Linked DNA regions of Homo sapiens: region 1 is linked to region 2. Evidence: fine-mapped expression QTL. A gene starts in region 2. The other region holds a variant in brackets. All regions are shown on one strand. Distances are from middle to middle.

The links.
Region 1: its variant is fine-mapped to the expression of PRKAG2-AS2 in ileum (GTEx, PIP above 0.99).

What each region holds. Positions count from the first base shown.
Region 1 is chr7:151,996,877-152,002,257 of GRCh38, forward strand. The region is part of intron 5 of GALNTL5 (polypeptide N-acetylgalactosaminyltransferase like 5); the gene reads left to right. Among named protein-coding and RNA genes, the nearest start is that of GALNT11, 26 kb to the right of the region's middle. The variant A/AT (reference allele first, on the strand shown) is at 2,794.
Region 2 is chr7:151,803,658-151,809,038 of GRCh38, forward strand. PRKAG2-AS2 (PRKAG2 antisense RNA 2) reads left to right here and starts at 2,681. Exons shown (of 3, transcript NR_171033.1): 1 at 2,681-3,379; 2 at 3,715-3,978. The region is part of intron 1 of PRKAG2 (protein kinase AMP-activated non-catalytic subunit gamma 2); the gene reads right to left.

The DNA.
Region 1 (5,381 bases), 190 kb after region 2:
ATAAATTATATATAATGAGTTACGTTTAAGGGTGAAAATGTGGACACTAACCAAAGAACGAAAATAAATACAAAACAGAGAAAAACAGGAAATACTGTGAAATTGATACATACGCTATTTGTTGCTTTTCAAAAAACAAGTTAACAAACGTTGCAATCCACAATCCCTAGAGAAATGGTGCAAATAGACTACGACAGGAGAGCAGAAAATAAGCTTCTACACAGGGTAAGATGGAGGACGTAGCTCCCAACTCCAAACTTTAGGGAGCAATGGAATTGTTTAGAATATTTCCACAAATACTCTTTGGAAGCAAGTAGGGGAAGAATTCCTCTATCAGGCAGGCTTGACCTCACGCCCTTTACTCATCACAAGCACTAAAGAGAATCTGATGAATGTCTGATAGGTCATCTAGCACATGAATGATAGGCCATCTCTAAAACCAATAAATAGCACGGTCCTTCCCGAAACTCTCGAAGGCAGCAGAAGTAGAGCAACCGTCCTTTCCTAGCACCAAACTTTAGGTTTCCACAAAATATTCCTGTGAAGGAGAGAAATCAGCTGAAGAGGGACCCTCACTACTACTTTGCTCTCCTTACAGGATGTAAATTTCCCCTGTTAAATATTTTATGATGAGTGAAAATAAAACCTCATTGAAATGTAGGTGCTAGGTGGCCTGTTCCCACGTTTTTAACTTAAATCAAAATTCAGTAATACCCCATATTAATTTTGCATAAAGTATAATTTTAAATTATTTTGCAATTTTTAATATTGCATTTATGGTCTTTCTGGGTCATTAGAATCCTCAAAGTTGCAAATATTTAAATCTTTCAATATTAAGGGTACAAGTGTACACTGTATACAGTAAAGAGATACCACAAATCTGTATGGGAAAAAAGACTTTTAAAATGTTTTTGTTGCAGTTGTTGTTTAATGCCACTTAAACAATTAGCCATTTGGGAAAATTTTAGGTCTTTATTTCATACCATAACCCAAATAAATTATAACTGGATTAATGTTAATTTTATTTTAAAAAATCAAACCATAGCCAGGTGTGGTGGCTCATGCTTGTAATCCTAGCGCTTTAGGAGGCCAAGGCAAGAGGATTGCTTGAGGCCAGGAGTTCTAAGACCAGCCTGACAACACAGTGAGACACCATCTCTACAAAAATTTTTATTAAAAAAAGTAGGCGAGTGTGTTGGTGCACACCTGTAGTCCTAAGCTACTCAGGAGGCTGAGGCAAGAGGATCGCTTGAGTCCAGGAGTTGGAGGTTATAGTGAGCTATAATAGCACCACTCCACTCCAGCCTGGGCAACAGAGTGAGACTGTCTCTGTAAAAACATCATCATCATCAAACTTCTTAAGGGATAATTTAAAAATATAAAAACATAGATTAATACTTGCCTGTTTTATGAATAAAGAAATTTCAAAGCTTAAAACCAATGGAAAAGGTGCTAAAAAAAAGTCTATTTTTTTAACAAAAAAATGTAAAATTGCTGCAAATAAAAAATAATAAAATTAAATAACAGTAGGCTGGGGAAATGTAACAGGACTAAAAGTTAATATTTTTAGTATGTAAAATGTACATTTAAAATCCATTAAAAATACAACTCCAAGCTGGGCATGGTGGCTCACGCCCATAATCCCAGCACTTTGGAAGGCTGAGGCAGGTAGATCATTTGAAGTCAGAAGTTTGAGACCAGCCTGGCCAACACGGTGAAACCCCATCTCCACTAAAAATACAAAAATTAGCTGGACATGTTGGCAGGTGCCTGTAATCCCAGCTACTTGGGAGGCTGAAGCAGGACAATTGCTTGAAGCCAGGAGGTGAATGTTGCAGTGAGCTGAGATCATGCTACTGCACTCCAGCCTGGGTGACAGAGCGAGACTCTATCTAAAAAAAAAAAAACAAAAAACAAAACTACTCCGATAGGCAAAGTACACGACAATTTCATTTACAAATGGCTAATCATGTGGAAAATTCAACCTCACCAGCGATTAAAAAAAAATTAACCAGATTTTTTAAAATTGAGGCACGATTAACATAAAACTGATCATTTAAAAATGAACAATTAAGTAGCATTTCGCACCTTCACAATGTTGTACAGCCATGACCTCTAACTCCAAAACATTTTCATTACCTGAAAAGAAAGTCTTTTAGCCATTAAGCAGCTTCCTTCCCTCCAGTCTCTGGCAACCACCTATCTGTGTTCTGTCTCTTTCTAGATATTTCATATCAACGGAATCATACAATATGTAACTTTTTGTGTCGGGCTTCTTTCACTTAGTATATTTTTGAGGTTCATCCACATGGTGGATGTGTCAGTGCTTCCTTTTTTATGGTTGAATAATATTCCATTCTGTGATACACCACAGTTTGTTTCTCCATTCATCCATTGATGGGCATTTGGGCTGTTTCCCTCTTTTGGCTGTTGTCAACAGTACTGCTGTGACCATGCACATATATACATTTGTTTGAATTCTTTTGGGCATGTTCCTAGGAATAGAATTGCTGGGTCTTATGGTAATTCCAGGTTTAATTTTTTGAGGAGCTGCCAAGCTCTTTTCTTCAGTGGCTGCACCATTTACACTCCCACCAGCAATGTGTAAGAGTTCAAATTTCTCCATATCCCTGCCAAAACTTATTTTTCATTTTTTAAGTTCTCGTCATCCTAGTGGAAGTGAAGTGGTTCTTCACGTTGGTTTTGATTTGTGTTTTCCTAATGACATGATGTTTCGCATCTGTTTGTGTGCTTGCTAGCCATTCGTACATCTTCTTAGGAGAACCAGATGTT[A/AT]TTTTTCACCTATCAAATGAGCAGACATGATTTTAAAATGCTAATAATGTTACGTAATATTATAGAAGCTATTTTAGGTGAAAAATGTGAAGTATAAAGCTGTGTGTGTGCTGCCAATAGTATGAAAACATATGTGTTAAAAATGGGACTCTTGTTAGCTCAGTTTTGGTTGAGGCATGAAAATCATAGCTGTAATATTCCAAAGTGAGTTGTTAGACTGACCACGATAAAGATATTTCAAAATAGAGATCTGAGAACCAATGAGATGGCTCAGCCAGATTGAGTCATGTTGTTAGAGATTAAAGGAGATTTTTGGAGAAAGCTACTGCTCAAAGCCTGGTGAGAGAGACTTGATATGAATTCAGCACATTCTCAGACATCAATACAATAAAATTGGAAATATATTGGGATTGAGGAGAAGTGAACTAATGTTAGTTTTCTGCCGAAAATCAAAAGGATAAAAAGACTGTGACCAGCTGTAGAACAAAGGACACTTGCTTTTAGATTAGTAGCTGTATTTATGGCAGAGTTTGCTTTGGCAGTGTTGGAGAGAGAGCTATAGGGATCATCTTAGATGGTGTCCGGTAGGACTATCTAGAAGAATGGACAGGCCTCAGCAGAGAAGCTGGAGACAGAACACAGGATCTTAAGGAGCTGAGAAGACAGATTGAGTCACCAGAATAGAATGCACTTGCCCAGTTTGTGGGAACTGCTGACCAGAGACCACCAGGGATGAGAAGGGAGGTCCTCAAAGTTGCTATTGCCAGCCACACACCCTCAGAGAACTCAGCCCAGAGAGTGCCCTTCAGGCAAGAGAGAACTTTCCTGTTCTCTGTACTCCTCCCCTCCCACCCATCATTCCCAACAGCACTGGACAAGTGTTTCAATTTCTCCACCACCTCCCCAACACTTGCTATTGTCTGTCTTTTTCATTCTTGCCGTCCTAGTGGATGTAAAGGGATACCTCACTGTGATTTTTATTAACGTTTTTCTGATGACTAATGGTGTTGAACATCTTTTCACATGCTCATCAGCCATTTATACGTCTTTGCAAAGATGTCTATTCAAATCTCTTGCGCATTTTAAATCAGGTTGTCTTTTTATTACTAACTTGTAAGAATTATTTATATATTCTCATACAAGTCCTTTAGTATATGTATGATTTGGAAATACTTTCCCCCATTTTGTGGATTTTTTTCTCTTTCTTTGTTTCTTTTTCTTTTCTTTTCTTTTTTTTCTTTCTTTTTTTTTTTTTTGACAGAGTCTTGCTCTGTCACCCAGGCTGGAGTGCAGTGGCACGATCTTGGCTCACTGCAACCTCCGCCTCCTGGGGTCAAGTGATTCTCCTGCCTCAGCCTCCTAAGTAGCTGGGATTACAGGCACCCACCACCACACCTGGCTAATTTTTTTTTTTTGTATTTTTAATAGAGACGGGGTTTCGCTATGTTGGCCAGGCTGGTCTTGAACTCCTGACCTCAGGTGATCCACCCCCCTCAGCCTCCCAAAGTGCTGGGATTACAGGCATAAGCCACCGCACCAGCCATTTTTTTTTTTTCATTTTCTCGATTGTGTCTTTTAAGCACAAAAGTTTTTGCTTTTGATGAATTCCAACGTATATGTTTTTTCTTATGTCCCCTGTATTTTTGGTGTCATATCTAAGAAACCATTGCCTCACCTAAGGTCATAAATATATGCTTATGTTTCCTTCTGAGTTTTATAATTTTAGCTCTTACCTTAGGTCTATGACCCATTTGATTTGATTTTTAGTATGATATGAGGTAGGGGTCTAACTTCATTCTTTTGCATGTGGATATTCCGTTGCCTCAGCACAATTTATTGAAAAGACTATACTTTCTCCATTGAATTGTCTTGGCCCTTGTCAAAAATCAATTGACCATAGACACATGGTTTATTTCTGGTTTCTGTGTCTATCCTTACACCAATGGCACACTGTTTTGATTATTATCACTTTGTAGTAACCCTTGAAATCAGAAAGCCCTTCAACCTTATTTTTCTTTTTCAAAATTATTTTGGCTAATCTAGGTCCATTGCCTTTTCATATGACTTTTAGGATCAATTTCTTTAAAAAGAGCCAGCTGGGATTGCAATAGGGATTGCACTAAATCTGTAGATTAGTATGGGGGTTATTGCCATATTAAGTCTTCTGATCAAAACATGAGATTTTTTTATACCTTTCTAATGATTTTACACTGGCTACAAGAAAAAGTCTAAACTCTGCTACTTGAAGTTTGGGGTTCCTTCTACATCAAGCCCCTGGTGTACTTCAATAATACACTTTCTCTACTTTAACCATGCCAATTATTCCCATGTCCTCTAAGCAGAATAGGTCCCCACTGAAGCTTGAACTCAAAGGCTGAGGTGGGCGGATCACCTGAGGTCAGGAGCTCGAGACCAGCCTGGCCAACACGGTGAAACCCCGTCTCTACTAAAAATACAAAAATTAGCCTGGCATGTTGGCAGGCACCTGTAATCCCAGCTACTTGGGAGGCTGAGGCAGGAGAATTGCTTGAACCCGGGAGGCGGATGTTGCAGTGAGCCAATATCATGCCACTGCACTCCAGCCTGGG
Region 2 (5,381 bases):
ATCTCTGTATAGATTGTGAGGACTCTGAGAGCAACGGCTATATTATCCAGCTTGTTTTTTTTTTTTTAAGAAGTAAATTCATCCAGCTTGGCCAACATGGTGAAATCCCATCTCTACTAAATATACAAAAATTAGCTGGGCATGGTGGTGGGCGCCTATAGTCCCAGCAACTCAGGAGGCTGAGGCAGGAGAATCATTTGAACCTGGGAGGCAGAGGTTGCAGTGAGTTGAGATCGCGCCACTGCACTCCAGACTGGGCAGCAGTGCGAGACTATGTCTCAAAAAAAAAAAAAAAAAAAGTAAATTAATAGGATTCAAAAGTCAAAACATAACAACCTGTAATTGAAGAGTCATACCCTTGGCCCAGCCATGCCATGTCCCCAGAGGAACCACTTTTAGTTGCGTAGACAGCTAGGGTTGCTTTATGCAAATGCAAATATGAAGGCTGTTCCCTGTCTCTTATCTGTTTTGCTCGTGTCTTACTGCCTCGCCTATCTGGGAGATCTTTCAATATCAGCACGTAGGGATTTGGGGGTATCCACGTCATATGCTTTTGTCTGGAATGCTCTAGTTTAACCAGTCCCCTGTAGGTGACGCAGGCTGCTTTCAATCTTTGGCAATTACAGAGAATTAATACAATAAAAACTTGGTCCATACTTCATATTTCCAGCATAAGTTCCCAGAAGTGTGGCTGCTGCTTGCAGGTCAGTGCATTTATTATTTCTGCCACGTGCAGACAGGGGGAAGGGCCCCTTATAAAACCAACAGATCTCGTGAGAACTCACTATCACAGAACAGCATGGGGGAAACCACCCCCATGATTGAATTACCTCCACCTGCTCTCTCCCTTGACATGTGGGAATTACAATTCAAGAGGAGATTTGGGTGGGGACACGGATGTCACCACGAGCCCTCCTCAGCATTGGACAGTTTGCTCTCCTAACTATGATGTAGGAGAGTCTATTTCCCGCACTGACTCACCAACAGGCTATTTTGTTCAACACCTGGACTTTTGCTGGGTTGGTAAGACGTGGCATCTGTGTAACCCAAATTGACATTTGTTTTCTTTATTCCGTGGTGTTCCATCGCGGCACAGAGTCGGCACTTGAGGTGGCATCCTGTGGAACTGCTTCTCAAACTGCACGTAGGACATAGGTCATAAAATCCACTCAGGACACACAGGTTTTGTTGCGGCTGCTGTTCATAGAACAAAACCAGAGCTCCAGGAGTTTTCTGGGATGTCTATATCCAATAGGTCATGATGTGAAGTTCCTCGCCGTGGCTCACTGTCAAAGTCTGAAAGCCGCTGCGGAAGTGGCTCAACGCATGGCAGGCACAGGGGCTCCATGGGGTAAGTAGCCCACAGGACAGCCACTAGGAATGTGGTCCCTCCCTGCATACATGTGCTGTCTCCTGTTGAGTGGGCGAATCTGTTCCTCCATCCTTGAGTTGGGGCAGCTGTGCTCAACAGAAATGCAGCAGAAACCACACCACCTGACTTCTGGGTTAGGTGAGAAGGAACCTCGCAGTTCCTCCTGGATCTCTTGTAATGTCTGCCGCGGGTGAAACCAGCTGCCACGTTAGGAATCTGCACCAAGACCACCATGTTATGAGGAAGCTCAAGCCAGCCACGTGGAGAGGCTGCACGGATGGAGAAACAGCTGCACGGCCAGCCCCAGGGAGTGATGTGAGAGTGAAGGAGCCTCTAGGATGTGCCAGGCTCAGCTGCCACCTGACTTTTCAAATAGGAGGAACCCCCAGTGAGAACTCAGCTGAGCCAGATGACTCCTAAATCCATGAAAGATGATTTCAAATCATATTTTTAAGTTTTGGGGTGGTTTGTTATGTAGCAATAGGTGATCTTGTGACTATGTAACCCTGGGAAAGTTACTTCATTTCTCTGTTTTTTAATCTAAAAACTGGGAATCATGGGAGTTCCTACTGGAAAATGAGTTAACATATAGAAGTATAGAACCACATATGAGTTAACAAAGACATGGCTGTGATGCCTGGGACTCATTTGGAAAACATGAGTTATCACTTTAAAATGCTTCACTGAGTTTAGAGGCAATATACTATGATTACTGAACCCAGGGACACTACAGATTCTTCCTTCTCAGAGCTTTGATGAGAGGAAAGAGGCAGATTCCACCTTACCTTCAGGTTTGCCAAGATCCTTCCCCAACGTACAAGTGAAAGGGAGCTCAGGAAGGCAGAATGAAGGGACACATCAAATCCTTGGTGACAAAGTTTAGGACAGGCTGGGCACAGTGGCTCACGCCTATAGTCCAAGCATTTTGGGAGGCCAAGGCAGGCTGATCACCTGAGGTCAGGAGTTCTAGACCAGCCTGGCCAAACCTGTCTCTACTAAAAATACAAAAATTAGCTGGGCGTGGTGGTGGCCGCCTGTAGTCCCAGCTACTCAGGAGGCTGAAGCAGGAGAATCGCTTGAACCCGGGAAGCGGAGGTTGCAGTGAGCCAGGATCCCACCACTGCACCCCAGCTTGGGCGACAGAGCGAGACTCCGTCTCAACAACTATGACAACAACAAACAGTTTGGGACAGAGAAAAATCCCTGTAAACTTCAAGCCTTTTGGGGTGCTCTTGGGTGAACTCCTAAATTGCTCAAGGGCTAACTTCCTCATTTATTATTAAAAGAAAAAAGAAAAAGGCAGAGGCCAGTGGTGAAGGCTGGCGATTTCTGGTCTAGGGTGAGAGATAACAGAAAGTAACAATGGAGGCTCTCGCAGTGCTCGCAGGCACTCAAGGAACGGAAAGGAAATTGCACATTTCACCCGTGACTGCATAGGCAAACGAGAACAGCAAGTCTCTGCTTTCAGCTGGAATGTTATCAACTTCGGTCACGCTGATTATCTCAGGCTGATCAGGAAGGCTGGTACCAGGAGTGAGTGACTAAATGAAGAAATTACTAATTAACAAATGCTTGGGTGGACAATCCTTCAAAATTTAGGATCAATGGGAGGAGACAGAAGGAGTCTTGGGAGGATTTTTAAAATATGCCAGAGCTGGCTGGGTACAGTGGCTCACACCTGTAACCTGAGGACTTTGAGGTGGAGACGGGCAGACCACCTGAGCTCAGGAGCTCAAGACCAGCCTGGGCAACATGGCAAAACCCTGTCTCTACTAACACTATAAAAAGTTAGCTGGGCGTGTTGGTGCATGCTGTAGTCCCAGCTACTCAGGAGGCTGAGCCACGAGAATCGCTTGAACCTGGGAGATGGAGGTTGAAGTGAGCCAAGATCGCACCATTGCACTCCAGCCTGGGGAAAAAAAAAAGCCAGGCCTCCTAATGTACTCATTTAAACATCACTTGTGTCCACCTGGGTTCAGAATTGCGCTGGACATGGGATACACAAAGGTAAGACATGGACCCACCCTCAAGTCTGAAGGTGGAGGTGGGGAAGGGCAGAGGCTGTAAAGGGTCAGAGGGACCTTGTGGAGTGGTGGAAATGTTCCAGATCACACTGTGGCGGTGGTCACATGACTGTGCACACTTACGACAACCCATCTAATTGTATACTGTCAGTCAAAGGGCATTATATGTAAATCACACCTCAATAAAGCTGACCAAAAAGTGGCCAGTCAGCCACCAGCAGACCCATGGGATAGGGGAAGAAAAACAAGCAATCTACAGAACGTGGGAAAATGCCTATATTAAGAATCCTGGAATACTCCATGTGCTTTTTCATGCAGCGGGAGTGGAATTTTCAGGAAGCAGCTGTGCTGTGGGTGACGGTCATACTTTATTCTCTAAAACTCTCCAGTTTCAATTGGCCTCTTGGTGCCAAAGCACCATGGCGTGTTACACCTATCAGATCGGGCACACTGCCCCTTCTTCCCAACCTACGAGCTGAAATGGCCAGCACTGCGCCTTCCAGAACCCAGCGTAGATGCACAGCTGCCACGGAGGTAGGAAGAATGATTCGTTTGCCACCAAAAGCCCAGTTTCTCCAACAGGTAAGTCCCAGCAGGGTGCGATGTCCCAAACCTACACAACCGTTTCCACTGCCTATTCCCGGGCCCCTCACTTGGGTCAAGGCAGCATTTCAGAGGAAGCCAGGAGCGAGAACTCGTGCATCCGAACCCTTCTCTGACTTGGCGGGTTATTGGATTAGCTACTCTCAGAAGACCCAAAAGGCATAGGGGAGAGAAGAGATAAATCTGGATGCGGTGGAGACAACGGCCAAACAGAAAAACCGCTTGGAGAATAAAAGTCGGGGGAAGCCTGTAGTGGGGACGCTAGACTCAAGGGAAGGCTCTGGAGGAAGGAAGAGGCTAAAGGCATAGTTTCGTAACCCCTCCCTACAAACTACCCCCTTTCCCTCTGCCCAAGTGAGCACAGGGACCGCCCCGCAGCAAGACGACGGCAGATATTTAAAATGTGAGGAACCCCGGCCACAGCGGGCGGGGCTCCCCACCCATCACCTAGTGTCCTCACTCACTGCACTCCAGACTTTGTCAAAGTGGTGGCAGCTGAGTCCAGCACCAGAGATTGGTGATGCTCGGGTTGATTTCATTGTCAAGTGCATCTGGCAGGACTCTAGTTTGTCGACAGTATTCCAGACAAGGTGTAGCTGGCTGAACCGCAGTGCCTCGGCATTTGGGACCATTGAAAAATACTCTGGATTCTTTTTTTTTCTTTTGCAATTGCACAAGGATTTACTTATCTCTCTTCATGGGTGAAACTGATTTGGGGGGAAACTGCTAGACTCAATGACCAGTTGGACTGTAGGCAAGAAGGCCCATGATTTTGTTCCTCAGATAAAAGAGCAGCAGGGAAACAGGAGGCCTCTCTCCTGCAAAGCTGGTCCAAAGTGCACACAAGGCATGGCTGAGCGCCTGGTGATGCACAGTCAGCAGACGGGCGAGACCCAGGAACGTGTACTGTAACAAGAGAGTCTAGTGCAGGTTGTTGGGGGGGCTTGAGGCTATCCGCTGACATCTTTTCTCCCCAGTCAGGAGACAGTAGGGGAGATGGTTCTCATAGATCAAGTCGGGCTTTGAGAAGGAAGGTGAACAGGAGAAAAAAAAAAATAGAGGCCTCAGAAAGCCCCTCCCTCCCAAGTCTCTCCTCACAGGCGAACCACGACAGATGGCTGCGCGGCCTGAGGGCCGGCCTCCAGGCAGCCAGGGAGGAGCAGCTGCAAGTCCTGCAGTCTGTGAGACCCCCGAAGGGTCTGGGCCAGCATCCAAGGCTAAAGCCTTGGCTATCCTAACGCCGCAGTGGGGCACTTAAAGCTCCTCACGCCCAAGCCCAGGCCTGGTGGGAGCACGGTTCTCTCCCGCGCTCCCCCTCCTCCCCACTCCACGGCCACCCTTCCTTCCAATCGTCCCCCTGGAGTTCGTGTTGGAAGATGCCA